2 separate regions of the Homo sapiens genome follow, and region 2 is linked to region 1. Evidence: fine-mapped expression QTL. A gene starts in region 1. The other region holds a variant in brackets. All regions are shown on one strand. Distances are from middle to middle. Region 1 holds the start of LINC02406 (long intergenic non-protein coding RNA 2406). Region 2 has its middle 80 kb from the start of LINC02406.

Region 1 (2,916 bases):
TTCCAGGTGTTCAACTCCCTCCCTTCTTTGTCATGTTCTCAAAGGACCTCAGTCCATTATAATGTCTTCTTTCCCCCACGCCCCATCATTGCAAGCTGTCAGTGTAATTAGTCATAACATAGGCTGTTTAATACCTCTTAGATTTAGTTTTCTGAAAAGGGATCGTTGCATCTTCCACAGACTGTGGAACATAGAAAAATTCTAGCGTTCAGCGAGTCAGTGCATCCCTCTGAATAGTCACCAAGATACTGTTTTAGTTTGGATATTTAAATTATGTCAGGTATAGATCCCTAAAATTGGAGATGAAACAGTGAACATGACTTTCTATTTTCTTGTATGGTGGTAAGAACACTTAATATGAGATTACCCTCTCAACAAATGCTGAAGTGTGCAATACAGTAAGGAGTATCAGATGTGGGACAGTCAAAAGAGGATCTAAAACGCAGGAGACGGAGGTTAAGCAGCGGTTTCCCGGGACTGGGTTGTGCTCCCGAACGTTCGCAGGTTCCAGGACCGACCGCTCACCCCGGCGGCAGCCGACCGGGTCCCCACTCAACGCCGAGCTACCCCGGCTCAGCCCCCTGGCCGCGAACTGGGGGTCCAAGTGGGAGCGGACCTTGCGCCACCTGCCCCGCTCGCGGGAAAGGCAGTAGGAGGGAGGCGACTAGGTCTCTAGCGACAGAATCCGCACCTGCCCCACGTGCCCTGGCTGCAAGTCGCGACGCCTGCAAACAGAGGGCCCAGGGCGCCGGGACTGGGGAGGGGCGGGCCTGGGCGGCCCAGCCGGTCCCGGAGAGGCCGCCACAGAAGCCGGCCCCGAGCCCTGGGGCACATTCTGGGGAGGGGGGTGGGGTTCCGCGGCCCTTATCACTACAGCCCAGGAGAGAACCCGGTTTTGAGCGTGGTTTCCCCGCCTGCCCCCATTTGCACGCCGCGACTCTCTTTTTTAAAACAAGAGTGGAAGAGAAAGGCGCCAACTTATGTCCCTCTTGCTCTTCGGGGCTTCATGAAGGGACCTCCTACCCACACCCACGCCCAAACCCGCCACAAACTCCAGAGCGGGACAGAGTCCGCGACCTTCAGACGACCCCGGCGCGAAAGCGCGCGCCCACTCGGAGTGCCCCGAGCCAGCGCCGGCGAAGCAGGTGGATTCGACCGCCCCCAATTCGTCCCGCTTCAGCACCCGAGTCACTCCCGTTCCCGCCTCCTGGTGCTGGAGGACCTCACCCAGCACCGAGGGGCACGGACAAAACGGAGCGGGAAGTGCCCAGTTCTTGACGTCGGATCCGTGTTCGCGGCCGGCTCAGGGTCCGGCGCTGAGGACGCGTGTGCGGGGTGGTCCGCCGCCCCGGAAGGTCGCGAACTCGCCGCCTCCAGCGCCGGCGCCTTAACCCCGCCGGTCCCGGCGCCAAAGTCCCGACAGTGGCGGACGCCGGCACCAGGGGCGATGGAGAGCAGGCGACACCGAGGGTGTCCATCCGGTCCACCCAACCTGGTGCAAGGCTCTGGGAAGCGCGCTGACAGGATTTCAAGGCCAGAGTTAAAAAGGCGCGTTCCGTGGTAACATTTTAATCCACTCACTGCCAGCTGCTGCCACTTCTCTTGCTACTGCACACGGAAAGCCCTCTTCCACCTCTCTCCATTTCCCCAATTCTATAATACCTCCATTTAGTTTCATGTTTGTTTTGCTTTTGCATATTAAAAGATTTATAATAATAGTTCTGACGCACAAGGCTTAAGAGACAAGCTATATAGACTGCAATCCGATTTTATAGGCTTGAATCCACCGTCGGTTGGTTATGAGATGCTTAGAAAATTATTTCCATTCTCTGTTCCTCATTTTCCTCACATGTACAACATGGATAATAACAGTACTGATCTCATAAGGTTATTTGGAAGATATGGGCATATAGCACAAATTGCCTGATGCCGAGTAAGCACTCAGAGCTCTCCTCCTCACAGAACTGTAATGTATTACAACTGAAAGAGCTTTAAAAACACGATTTTCTGAGGCTGAGCGCAATGGCTCAGGCCTGTAATCCCAGCACTTTGGGAGGCCGAGGCGGGCGGATCACCTGAGGTCGGGAGTTCGATACCAGCCTGACCAACATGGAGAAATTCGTCTCTACTAAAAATACAAAATTAGCTGGGCGTGGTGGCACATGCCTGTAATCCCAGCTACTCGGAAGGCTGAGGCAGGAGAATCACTTGAACCCGGGAAGCGGAGGTTGCGGTGAGCCGAGATCGCGCCATTGCACTCCAGCCTGGGCAACAAGAGCGAAACTCCGTCTCAAAAAAGAAAAAAAGAAAAAAAAAAAACTAAACTAAACCCACGATTTTCTATTGTACTGCGAATTTGTCGATTAGGGATGGGTGGGAAACTTCTGTTAGTGATCGGACTTTCAGGCTGGGCAACCTGGGTTGCAGTTCTACCTTCACCTCTTACAAAATGTGTGACCTTGGGCAAGTCACTTCACCTTTCTGCACCTCAATTACATCCTCTGTCAAATGAGATAATAGCTCTTGTTAGTGAGGACTCAATAAGCTAACATTTGCAATTAATTTAGAATATTTACTATCAAATGTATATGCCTTTATAAAATGTAGAATTTACCTTTTATAAGGAGGTAACTTGTAATTCAAATTCTATGCAAATCCATCAGAATCTCAGCCTTATTACAAACACTGCTAGCTACATTTGCAATGTACTCTAACCATTTTCATATTCTTTCCTTTCAACAAGCAATTACAAGTTAAACATGATAGTTAACATTTTCAATGACTGTAAGTAATAATTTTGGGAAAAATACTGAATACCGAATTATACTAGTTGAGGTATAAGATGTTAGTGACAATGTTAATTATTGTTTCCAATATTACTTATAAAATATACATTTTATACTTTTGAGGAATCAA
Region 2 (2,916 bases), 80 kb before region 1:
ATATCCATTTATTATTATAAGGAATTCCCCATATTTATCCATTCTTTATATTTAACCTCTCTTTTCAACTAAGCAGAGGTACACATACTGTGGCTTATATAAATAAATATTATCTTTTTAGAATGTGAGGGGAAAGGGTTGGTCTAGGCAAACTATATATTTTGTATGTATGAATAGATGATGGAATTCTAACACATGCATTCCAACATTTATTATATGAGCTATGTACTGACAGGAATTATAAAACCATTTTATATTTCCTCCTTTTACTTCCTGTCATACTATTCTTTTTATAACTAGAAAATATCTAGAATCTTTTTCTTCTTTTGTGCCTTTCTTATGTAGTTCTTTTAAACAAAATAAGCCCTCAGTGCAACTATCTCCTCCCTGAACTCTTATCTAATTCTTGTCAGAATTAAAATCTCCTTTTGCATTCCTCACACCTCCATTTGGCTTTTTTTTTTTCTCTTCATTCTCTTAGTTGTCCTACTTAGCCCTTTTGAGAACAGGTAGTATGTCTTTTATTCCATCTTATTCCCAATAATAACCATCAAGTGAATATTGAGAAAATGTAATTTTTCTATATACTTGGAGAAAACACAAGGTGCAACAGAATTTGTTAAATATCTATTATAAGAATGCTTTTATACATAGTAATAGAAAACTGAGTCCTTCCACTCTCTACTTTCGGTACATGATAATTCACAAATCATCGGAGAAAGCCCTACAAATCTGCTTAACCGGAGCGGGGTGAGGAGATAGAGGATGTATTTACCAAGATTCCTGATCTGCAGCACACACAGGAGCATTGGATGTCAGAGCAAACACGACTCCACAGGCTCGCACTCAGTCAGAGAGGATGTCAAGGCAACACTCATACCTCAGCCTTAACAACCAGACCTGCAGGCAGCTGGAATATTTTTCTTAGTCGTCTTAGACAATGCAATACAGGGGAAATGCCTTCTGAGCAAATCTGAGTTCTAGTCTCATTTCTACTATTAAATGATAAAGACCAGTTTCTTCAGGTTTCTGTGACTTGTTTCTCTAAAAAGACAGACTGAAGAGGATAGAACCTGATGGCCTTTTTTAGCCCTTCATTCTTAATGTATTATCCCTCCATGTGTTGCTAAGCCATTCGAAAGAAGTTGATTATAAACCTAGCTCAGCCGCCAAATCGACTGTTTCTGTGCACATGTGCTCCAACTTGACCTTCTCTTCTGTTATGGTGGATGAACTGCCTGTGCTCCTGAGACGAACTCTTCCAGCAATTCACTGGACTCCAGCCT[T/C]TCTCCCCTTTTTCTTATACCATCTTTCATATCATCATACAACACACATTTTTATCTCATCTTCAAAAAATAACTTACATTCCCTTTTTTGACCTCATTTCACTCCATTTCTCTCTTCCTTAAAATTAACTTTTTCAAAAGAATCGTTTACTGTCAGTCTTTTCCCTTTCTCTCTCTGCTCTCTCTTGAAGATACTCATCTCAGGCCTTAACCTCCCCAAAACCCTACTGGAACTGCTCTTATCAAGATGAACAAAGAACTGCATGTTGCTATAACCCACGTTCAATTCTGAGTCCTCATCAGCACAGTTGATGGAATTATTTCACATCCTCTTTTCTGAGACACTTTCTGCATTCTTTTCAGTATGAGTGAAGAAACTCCATATTTCTATAATTTCAGTCCAATTGTGTCTTGCTATTTCTTTGCATCCCAAAAAGGTATTTACAGAGCAATGGACAAGTACTCACTGGTATTTACTTATTGAATATTTATTGTGCTTGAAGATGTGAAACATGCAAAATTGAGCCAGACATTAGTTTTGCCATAAGGAGGTTAAAATACGGAGGGAGAAATAAGACAGTGAAGTGAATGAATATGATGCAAGATAGAAAATGTAATTTTCTTAATATAACAGTAAATATTTATATTGTAAATATAAATATTATTTTATAATTTTTAAATACATGTTATAAATATGTATAAATAAGACTTTAAAGAAAAGTATATATTTGGTGCTCCTGGAGTTCAGAAGAAAGAGAGATTATTTCTATGTGAGGTTTTCAGGCAGCCTTCATGAAGAAGGTAGATGAAGCATTGGAAGAATTTGGATGTACAGAGACAGCAGAGAAAGGCATTCAATAAATGGAAGAAAGAGGAAACAGTTTGAATAAATGTAGAAAGGAGGAAAAGTATAGGACAGGCCCCAGAAATAGCAGAGACAGAGGTCTCTTCCTTGTGTTCAGCATGCTGTGAGAAAATATCTTTAAGATTTTTTAAAGCCCTTTTGTCTGGTTTAGAAGGCCTATCAGACATCAAGCTAAATTATTCTGTGGTCTCAACAAAGGCTTTCATAGCCACACACTTATTGATCTTTACCTACAGTCATTTCTTTCTTTGGGAATATTTTACTGGCTGGAGAGACTGAGGATGAGAAACAGTTTGATATTCCAACTCAGTCAGTCCAAGAACTTCTATCTTCTTTCTAAATTCTTTTTTTCAACTGTACTTTTCTTTGTTTAGTTTATTTCTCTTCTCCTATAACATTATACACAATTTAAAGAGGTCAATATATTCAGTATTCTGCCCAGAAATCTTCTTTGTCAGATACACAAGTTCATTAGGTACATTTTCTACCTTCCAAATTATTGGAGGCAATTGTACAAAACACGTGTGGCCATATTTTCAGCTTCCATTAACAATTTGTTCACCATCCCACAAGCTTTTACTAACTTTTTACTATTTTTACAGCCTCTGCCCATTACTGGGTCTTAAAGCCAATGATAAATGATTTATATTTATGTCACCAATGGCATTGCATTTCTAACGTGCCATTGTAACACATTTTATGTATTAGTTATTAGTTTCTGCATACTAAAAACCACTCAAAAATTTAGTGGCTTTAAAAAGTATT

Evidence for each region. PIP is the estimated chance that this variant, and not a neighbour inherited with it, causes the effect.
Region 2: its variant is fine-mapped to the expression of LINC02406 in caudate (GTEx, PIP 0.99).

Annotation. Positions count from the first base shown.
Region 1 is chr12:39,144,141-39,147,056 of GRCh38, forward strand. LINC02406 (long intergenic non-protein coding RNA 2406) reads right to left here and starts at 1,330. Exons shown (of 3, transcript NR_183477.1): 1 at 1,228-1,330.
Region 2 is chr12:39,064,036-39,066,951 of GRCh38, forward strand. No RefSeq gene overlaps it. Among named protein-coding and RNA genes, the nearest start is that of LINC02406, 80 kb to the right of the region's middle. The variant T/C (reference allele first, on the strand shown) is at 1,287.